Homo sapiens: one gene and its partner. The protein of the gene in region 2 purifies or fractionates together with the protein of the main gene of each other region. This does not show direct contact. Each region holds a gene or a part of one and is shown on either strand. Other genes may lie near its edges.

The links. Proteins that work in one complex are often made in the same cells at the same time.
Region 1: the proteins of SQOR (region 2) and P2RY8 purify together in Homo sapiens (co-immunoprecipitation; one large-scale study listed by IntAct). This does not show direct contact.

The regions. Positions count from the first base shown.
Region 1 is NC_000023.11:1,530,327-1,535,341, reverse strand, and holds part of P2RY8 (S-geranylgeranyl-glutathione receptor P2RY8), read left to right. Parts: intron 1-5,015. UniProt on the Homo sapiens protein: G protein-coupled receptor for S-geranylgeranyl-glutathione (GGG), an endogenous metabolite present in lymphoid tissues.
Region 2 is NC_000015.10:45,657,802-45,663,438, reverse strand, and holds part of SQOR (sulfide:quinone oxidoreductase, mitochondrial), read right to left. Parts: intron 4,533-5,637; 5' UTR 4,516-4,532; coding exon 4,282-4,515; intron 1,485-4,281; coding exon 1,314-1,484; intron 1-1,313. UniProt on the Homo sapiens protein: Catalyzes the oxidation of hydrogen sulfide with the help of a quinone, such as ubiquinone-10, giving rise to thiosulfate and ultimately to sulfane (molecular sulfur) atoms.

The DNA of each region.
Region 1 (5,015 bases), on a different chromosome or scaffold from region 2:
GCGGCGGGCACCTGTCATCCCAGTTACTCGGCACGCTAAGGCAGCAGAATCACTTGAACCCAGGAGGCGGAGGTTGCGGTGAGCCAAGATCGCGCCACTGCACTCCAGCCTGGGTGACAGAGTGAGACTCTGTCTCAAAAAAAAAAAAAAAAAAAAAGGAATTATCCCACATTGGAAAAGCAGTACTTTCATTTAGGCACTGCCAGACAGGTGCCAGCGTCCTACGTGCACCAGGATGCTGCCCCTTTTCCCAAATATTGGCCTCCCCCACCCCACAAGAGGACAATTAGGTCAGAGGCTGAGAGAGGCGTGCATGGGACGTACGGGACGGTGGGCAACCCTGTGTTTGTAAAAGCACATGCTTTTCAGATGCCTTCTGCCAGGTCCCCGCCTGGCTGCACCATTCAGACTGACCAACCTTGGGGTGGGTGGGAGAGGTGAGGTCCCCTTGGAGAACCACAGAGACGCTCCCTCCCTCCAACCCTACCCACACTGCAGTTCTGAGTTTGTCCCTTAAAGTTCCAGGGAAGAAGCGATGGCTTAGGATTAACAACAGCAGGGTAGCTGTTGCCAGTGGTGCATACGTACAGCCCTGCGCTTGGAGAGGCCCTTTCCCCGGGCAGATGGCCCCCTCTCGTCTGAGTCTCTCTCCTGCGCCCTCTCCTTCAGCCCTGCCTCTCCATCAGGACCTCCTCATTGGCTGTGTCTGGGCATGGTCCCCAACCTCCCTCCCCCAGCCCCTCTTCTGTCCCTAGAGGCAGTGGGGTGGGCGGGGCAGGGTCCAGGGATCCCAGTGTCCACCTGGAACCCTGCTCTTCCTCTCTCGGGTTAGGAGATTCTGCACGGCCCCTGGGAGACACACAACACCCTGCCTACACCTGTTAAGGTACGGAAAGGGCGTGGGCGTGATGGGTGCCCCCAGGATCACCCCCAAGGACCAGACTGAGCTCAGGGGACTGCAGGGAGTGTTCTGCGGTTCACAATGTCGCTCCCTAGTGATGCAGTATCTGTGTTCACTTAGGATAAAGCAACAGATACACCTATCTGTGTGTGTGTATATATATATGTATTACATATATAATTATATAAATAATTATATATAAATAATATATAATATATAAATAGTAAGTATATAAATATATATGTAAATATATATAAATATATAATATATGTAAATATATTGTATATAAATATATATGTAAATATATATAAATATATAATATATGTAAATATATTATATATAAATATATATGTAAATATATTATATATAAATAATATACAAATATATATGTAAATAATAAATAGATAAGTATATAATATATGTAAATATGTAATATATAAATAATATATAAATATATAATATATTTAAGTTATAAATATATAACTATGTAATATGTAAATAATAAATAATATATGAATATATAATATATTTAAATAATACATATATAAGTATATAATATATAAATAATAAATAATATATAAATACATAATATATTTAAATAAATATAAGTATATAATATATAAATAATAAATAATATATGAATATATAGTATATTTAAATAATAAATATATAAGTATATAATATATAAATAATAAATAATATATGAATAATATATTTAAATAATGAATATATAAGTATATAATATATAAATAATATATAAATATAAAATATATTTAAATAATAAATATGTAAATAATAAATATGTAAATAATAATATATAAATATATAATATATTTAAATAATAAATATATAAGTATATAATATATTTAAATAATAAATATATAAGTATATAATATATAAATAATAAATAAAATATAAATATACAATACATTTAAATAATAAATATATAAGTATATAAGATATAAAGAATAAATAATATATAAATATACAATATATTTAAATAATAAATATATAAATATATAATATATAAATAATAAAAAATACATAAATATATGTTTAAATAATAAATATGTAAATATGTAATATATGAATATATATATATTATTTTTGGCAATCTCTTTTATTTGCCTCAAGAAAGCACACTCCTCAGAAGATTTTTTCAGAAGCTGATGTGTGTTTTTGTTGGTTTGTTTTACACTTTTTACTTCCATAGGTTTTGGGGAAACACGTGCCATTTGGTTACACGAGGAAGTTCTTTAGTGGTGATGTGTGAGATTTCAGGGTATCCGTCACCCAAGCAGTATACACTGAACCCGGTTTGTGGCCTTTTATCCCTCATCCTCTCCCCAATCTTTGCCCTGGAGTTCCCAAAGTCCTTTGTGTCATTCCTTTTTTTTTCTTTTTTCTTTCTTTCGTTTTTTTTTTTTTTTTTTTTTTTGAGACAGAGTTTCACTCTGTTGCCCAGGCTGGAGAGCAGTGGCGCGATCTCGGCTCACTGCAACCTCCTTCTCCCGGATTCAAGCGATTCTCCTGCCTCAGCCTCCTCCTGAGTAACTGGGATTACACGCATGTGCCACCACACCCGGTTAATTTTTGTATTTTTAGTAGAGACGGGGTTTCACCATATTGGCCAGGCTGGTCTCAAACTCCTGACCTTGTGATCTGCCCACCTCGACCTCCCAAAGTGCTGGGATGACAGGTGTGAGCCACCGCATCCGGCCGTTGTGGCATTCTTATGCCTTTGCATCCTCATAGCTTAGCTCTCACTTATGAGTGAGAACATACGATGTTTGGGTTTCCATTCCTGAGTTACTTCACTTAGAATAATAGTCTCCAATCTCATCCAGGCCACTCCAAATGCTATTCTTTTTCATGACTGAGTAGTATTCCATCATAAGTATATGTATATATATATACACATCATATACATCTATACATATATGTGTATATATACACATATACATCTATACATATATGTGTATATATACACATATACATATATACATATATGTGTATATATACACATCATATACATATATACATATATGTGCATATACACACATCATATACGTATATGTGTATATATACACATCATATACATATATGTGTATATATACGTGTGTGTATATATATGGCACACATATATATGACATATATGTGTGTGTGTTTGTGTGTGTGTCAGTGCCGGCATTTATATATATAAATACACCACAGTTTCTTTATCCACCTGTTGATTGATGGGCATTTGGGTTGGTTCCACATTTTTGCAATTGCAAATTGTGCTGCTATAAACATGCCTGTGCAAGTATCTTTTTCGTATAATGAGTTACTTTCCTCTAAGTATCTTTTTCATATAATGAGTTACTTTCCTCTACCTAGATACCCAGCAGTGGGATTGCTGGATCAAATGGTAGTTCTACATTTAGCTCTTTAAGGACTCTCCACACTGTCTTCTATAGTGGCTGTACTAGTTTACGTTCCCACCAGCAGTGCAGACGTGTTCCCTGTTCGCCACATCCACACTAGCATTTGCTATTTCTTGATGTTTTGATTGTGGCCATTCTTGCAGGAGTGAGGTGATGTCACATTCTGCTTTTGATTTGCATTTCCCTGATCATTCGTGATGTTGAGCGTGTTTTCATGCCGCTGAGCCGGGCTGGGACCTTGAGGACTGCGTTGATGCTTTTGTGCAGAGTGCCCTGCTCCAGGGGAAAGGTGCTGGTGCCCTGAGCAGAGGGACTTTGTGGAAGCAGGATGTGTGATTTTCTAGCCAAGAAGGTCTCCATGGGAGGGAGGAGTCCTATGAGACTCTCCATGGCTGGGCAGGGAGTGGCACAGACAGAAGCAGGTGGCAGGTGCCAGGCTGTGTTGGTTTCGGATGATGAGTTGGTGGAATGGCAATGTGCTGTCCAGGCTCCCCAGGAGTTCATGAGCTGGGGGTGGGCTGAGCATGCTAACCCCTCGGGCTGGGCACAGTCAGGCTGGGAGGGGGCCTGGACATTGTTTACGGGGGACCCTGTAAGCAGGGGGACCCCTGATGGAGAGGGCATGCAGGAAGATGGGGCAAGGACAGATCTTGGGATAGAACCATTCATGAGACACAAAAGGCACAGGCTGTCTGCTGGAGCACTAGTGACATTTGGGGCGGGGGAATTCCCTGTGGTGGGGCCATCCTGGGGATTGTAGGGTGTAGAGCAGCGTCCCTGGGCTCCAGCCACAAGGTGCCAGGAGCACCCACAGTTGTGACAATCAGAAATGTCTCCAGATATTACTCAATGTCTCCAGGTAGCAAAATCACTTGCTCATCTATCACTGTCTTAAAGATAGATGGGTGACAAATTAGATAGATAGATAGATAGATAGATAGATAGACAGACAGACAGACAGATAGATAGAATCGATAAATAGATACATAGAATAGATAGATATATACATACATACATAAATTAGATAGGTACATACATACATACATACATGGATAAATAGATTAGATAGATAGATACATAGATACATGCATAGATTAGATAGATAGATGATAGATTAAAGAGATATATAGATAGATGAGAGATAGAATAGACAATACATACATAGATATAGATAGATAATGGTGATGATAGACAGATAGATATATAGATAATAGAGATAGATAGAAAAGATACATACGTAAATTAGATAGATATATACATACATAGATTAGATAGATACATACATACATGGATAAATAGATTAGATAGATAGATATATAGATGCATAGATTAAATAGATGATAGATTAGAGAGATACATAGATAGATGAGAGATAGATAGATAGGATAGATAGATACACACATACATATAGATAGATAATGGTGATGATAGAGAGATAGATCAATCAGATAGATAGATACATAGATAGAATAGATACATACATATGTACGTACATAAATTAGATACATATATACATACATACATAGATTAGATAGGTAGATACATACATACATACATGGATAAATAGATTAGATAGATAGATACATAGATACATACATAGGTGCATTAATAGATTAGAGAGATAGATGATAGATTAGAGAGATACCTAGATAGATGAGCAATAGATAAGATAGATAGATATGTACATA
Region 2 (5,637 bases):
TCTCTGAACTCCCTAAAAGCAAATGCAAAATCTGATACATAGGTGCATTTTTCTAGAGAGGGCTTTCATCTGGTACCCAGAAAGATCCATGACCCAAAAAAAGCTTAACAATGCCTCAGCAGGCCGGGCACAATGGCTCACCCCTATAATCCCAACACTTTGGGAGGCTGAGGCAGGTGGATCACTTGAGGTCAAGAGTTCGAGCCAGCCTGGCCAACATGGTAAAACCCCGTCACTACCAAAAAATACAAAAATTATCCAGGCATGGTGATGCGCACCTGTAGTCCCAGCTACTGGGGAGGCTGAGGTGGGAGAATCGCTTGAACCCAGGAGGTAGAGGTTGCAGTGAGCCAAGATTGTGCCACTGCACTCCAGCCTGGGTGACAAAGTGAGACTCTGTCTCAAAAAAAATAATGCCTCAGCAGATGAATCTCTGTTGGAGGAAGGGTTGGACTTGAAAACGTTTTAGGATCCTCACCCAACTCTGATTCTACAATTCCGTGAAAATGCCAGAGTCCCAGTTGAAGGGGGAAGGGGCAGAGGATTAAGACCAATAACACCTTGTGAGTCCAAAAACCACAGGAGCCTGGAACAGGTCAGAGCACGGTGGCTGCACTGCCTGCCCCTGCCCTGGGCTCAGCAGCAGGTGGGGGAAAAGAAAGCTGCAGATGGCTTCTGAGCAGGCCTTCCACCATCCTGCTCTTATCACCTCAGTCAAACATGGGGCGGCCACTGCTGAAAAGCTTTGACCCCTGAGTGGTGAGGGTGGGAGACTTCTAAAAGGTGCTGAGCAGTTGTGAGCCTCAAGCTCCAGCAACAATTCTCCTTAGCGCTGGCATGAACCTCAGAGTCACAGGATTCCCCTACAGTTCTGGTAGAGCGCCCCCCAGGGTGGCTGGATGGATATTTTCCAGCATCCTATTGTTCTGGGAGGCTAGGCGACCGGTAGAAAATCTGATTGCTTCAGAAAAAGAGAAGGAGGAAGGTGCTTGCTATTTTAACATGTAGCAACGTATAAACAAATGGTCTGATAAACATTCAGGTGCAAGATAGTATACTAAGCAATAGGGTGCACAGTGGGTGTTCAACAAATACTTATCTTAGTTGTTTATTAACTCAATATCACTCAGTCCTTCCATCTATCCTCCACTTACCACATACCCTGCCATCTTGTGTAGTATTCAACACACATACGTTCATGCACACACATGCATATATACCGCTCTTTCAACACAAGGCTATCCAGTTTAAGATGGCTGCATATTAATACAAGCTGTCAGATTAACAAAAAATCTAAAGGCCTCAGTGGTTACCTTCTCGTCGTCATCTGTGTGAATGCAGTTCTTGTCTGGGTTCAACTCAGTCACTCTAGCTTTGATCCATTCTACACCAGATGGAATCACACTTGCCGTGGGACGACCAGATGAGGACAATTGTTTGGCACCAGCACCCACCAGTGTCCAGATTGGCTGGTAGAAATGTCTCTGAGAAACAAAGTATTTGAAGATTTATTGCAATTTGACACTGATCAAAAGGGGTCATAGCTAACAGTATGGGCTAGATTCTTTCAATCACTCCCTCCTGACCTTTAGAGCATCGTATGGAAAAGTCTCCACAAAGTTAGCTCCGTCTATTAGGCGTCTCCTATTATGGTAAGCTCTGAAGGACAGTCACTCCACACAAGAATTCTTCCAAGATCATCAGAAAAGCTATAAACTATCTTTAGTGACCACTGCATTATGTATTGCTGAAAGTTGATTTGGTGTTTAATATGTACATGTTATATGCACGTGCATATCTACACACATATTATGGATACTTCATGTGAACAAATATTTTAAAAATTAAGCCCAGCAGCCTAGATATGGTTCCTCAGGAGCATGTGGAGACAGTGGTAAGTCTGGAAAGTTTACAGCCCCTTCCAGAGGTCCTCTAAACTTCATTAACTTCCAACTGTGTTTCCCAAGCCCAGTGAGGGCTGTGTTTCCTGAACAGCCCTTCTTCTACTTTCTCAGAGACTCAGAGATTTTACACCAAAGACAATAAGTACCAGATCCTACTCCACAATGCAATGCATACCCAAACTTTCACTATCTTCTGGAGTTTTCTTGCTTCAGATGGTCCTTTTTTTTTTTTTTTTTTTTTTTTAAGACAGAGTCTCGCCCAATCACCCCAATCACCCAGGCTGGAGTGCAGTGGCACGATCTCGGCTCACTGCAACCTCCACCTCCCAGGTTCAGGCGATTCTTCTGCCTCAGCCTCCTGAGTAGCTGGGACTACAGGCATGTGCCACCATGCCTGGCTAATTTTTGCATTTTTAGTAGAGATGGCATTTCACCATGTTGCCTAGGTTGGTCTTGAACTCCTGACCTCAGGTGATCTGCCTTCCTCAGCCTCTCAAAGTGCTGGGATTACAGCCCTGAGCCACTGTGCCCAGCAACAGTCCATTCTTGATCTAAGTTAGTTGTAAAAGTTCTGGACATAGGGGCAAAGGGCAGATTTGTTTAATGGCCTCTAAGAATTCCAATCCACTTAGAGTAGACTGGGGACCAAGAGCTCTCAATATTGCCAAAATGCCTCAAAGTAGCTGGCCAGCACTGCCAAAACCCACAGAGAGGTGAAGAGGACACCAGGAATGACTTTGCAATCTCCCTACAAGCAATAATGTGATCCAAGAGGGAGGAAGACAGAGGTCTCCATTTATGAGAGCTCATCAATGGCCAGTCTATCTTGAACAGTAAGAGGAGCAAAAATACAAGCTCAGATTTTATTTTTAGACTATGAACATCAGCTCCAGCTATCACTAAATCAGACTCAGCAGGGAAAGTACCAAGCCTGGGGCTCTGGCAGCTCCTTCCAGAAATTCCTGTCCTGTACTTCCTCACGGGGCAGGACAAACTTGATTCTGGCCGCCTGAATTGTGCCCAGGTCCCAGAAGAGCCAGTCTCCTTACAAAGAGAAGCCTGACTGGGAGACCCGCCCACGCATTAGCTAAAATACAACATATACCAGAAACAGTAGCCACCTGACACAGCTCTCAGACCACTGTCATTTAAAGTGAGGTTCCTGAATTGAACAGACGTCACTTTAAAAAGGAAAATGATAGAGACTGCCCCCTAGTTTCCTCTCAAATCATGGCCCTGGTTAACATCATTCCCTGCTGGGGACAAATCTTGAAAAGGAGTATGTCTTCCTTGTCCTGTCCTCCCCCTGAAACAGGCACCTGATCCATTTTGCTTTTTCCTCCCAAGGATACAGCTCCCAACCAGTACATGCCTAGTTCCACAGGAAACATTAGGCAAACCACCAAAAATCTTGAATATTTTTCTGAAGCTTTTGGACAATCTTAACATGTTTTTTGTGAGACAGCGCCTTACTCAGTCTTCCCTCCTAGTGTCAGCTACCTTTTCTCCCTTATAATCTGCCCTTGCATTTAAATTTCTAAGCCCACTGACAGCTTTCCAGAGGCCTTCCTGCTCCCCAACTCATCATCCCTTCTCCAGACAGGAACAGATAGGCAAGTGCAGTGGCCATTGATTTTCCTCTGGGCAGGAGGTTGGCACTGGGAGAGTGTCATGGGTTGAATTGTATCTCTCTCAAAGAAGGATGTTGACGTTCTAACCCCAGTACCTGGGAATGTAACCTTATTTGGAAATAGGGTCTTTGCAAATGTAATCAAATTAAGATGAGGTCATTCTTGAATAGAGTGTGCCATAAATCCAATGAATGGTGGCTTTATAAAAGGGTCATGTGAAGACACAGGGACACAGAGACACACAGAGAACATTCTGTGAAGATGGAGGCAGAGAAAGGAGTGGCACAGCTACAAGCCAGAGAGTGGCAAGGATTTCAGGGTAACCACCAGAAGCTGGGAGAGAGGCATGAGACAAAGCCACCTGCCCATCCCTCTCACCCAGGCTGCAGAGGGAGCATGGCCTTGCCCATAGCTTGGTTTCAGGCTTCTAGCCTCCAGAACTGTGAGGGAATAGATGTCTGTTGTTTTAAGCCACCCAATTTGCAGTAATTTGTTATGGCAGCCCTAAGAAACTAATACAGAGGAGAACACTAAAAGCCAAGAGATCTGTTCTCCCTCTCTCTTTCCCTCCACTTCCTCCCAGTCCTTCTGGATAGGCTGCTTTCTGTGCCCAGGAGAAGCCCTAACCTGAACATATGAAGACCCATTGCTTGATAGTCATATCCAACCCCAGAACACACACACACACACACTCACACACACACACACGTACACACACACCCAGGCCCTCAAAAGGGGAGGCTTACCTCACTGGGCTCAACAATGGCCACATTCTCTGCACCCACTTTCCTCTTCATGCGGGCAGCCATGGTGATTCCGCCACTGCCCCCACCCAGCACCAGCACCTCATAATGGTTCCTGGCCGCATGGCTGGCCCCGGTGTGCAGCTGAAGGGGGCCGACCTGCTGAGTGCCCAGCCTGAGCAGGCAGGCAAAGAGCTGGGCACGGGGCCCTGATACCACAGCCACCAGTGGCACCATCTTCAGGCAGGATCAGGCTGGAAGGGAAGAGACAGGGCTGTGAGTGCCAAGGTAGAAACCATCGTGGGACTGAAGCGTTTTCTTTCCAGGAGGAAGGGAGGCCGGCATCTGGCCCGCTCCAGCTGGTCCCCATCATCTCTCAAGACCACTTTCCCCACTGGCTGTGGTCCCAAGGTCTCCTGAGAGCACCCAATTGGTAGCTATCAGTTGACTACACTTACCATTTCTCCCCTTCCGCCTACGTTCAGGCTATCGAGGACTTTGTTTGAATCAGGTTCCCCAACTCTTTAAGTCCTTCCTAATAACCTGTCTGTACCCATCCTTGTCCATCCGTAAGATCTAGGGCACCATCTGGTTGTATCCAGCTGTTGGCCCATTCTCCACGGAGGCACACTCCCCAGTGCTTTCTGTGGATTTTCAGTCCATTAAAACTGATATACGAGTCCACAATTAGAGACCTACAACATTCCTTGCAGTAAAAGGCACCTGAGACCTTGTTGAAACAGAAACCGTCTAGCAAGAAACCCACCTTCTGCAACTCAGAGTACCCACCAGGGCAATCAAGGCCTCAGCCCCCATCCAGAGGCCTCCTGGCTCTGCTTGCCCAGGGAAATATAATGTAATCAAATCACTGGCTACCGACACACAAGTGAAGGCCCTCCACACCTCTAGCAATTTCAACCAAACGATTTTAGAAAGCCATAAAAGGAGCCCTGCCTGGTATCATAAAGTTATATTTTATGGAAGGAATCTGTATATGCTGCTGACTAGTCTTTTATTACATCCAATTCAGTAAACAATTTCTCCTTAATAGTTCCTCCGAGAGACTCACTTTACCTTTAAGAAAACCTGTTTCTACTCTCAGCAGTTAGTGCTTTGGCAGAGAGGAAATTAAGGCTTCTCAAAGACTGACCTTTGCTTTACCCCACACACAAAGCTGGCCTGACATCCAGGACTCCATCTACTTGTAAACCTTGAGTGGCTCCGGCTCATGATATCTCCCTCCCTGGGTATGACAGTGCCCCAAATCCTACCGTCAAGTCCAGTTCTTAGGGTTCACCACTGCTCCAAGAACCCTTTATTAAAATGCAAGTGTCCAGCTGGGGACTAACACTTCTAGCT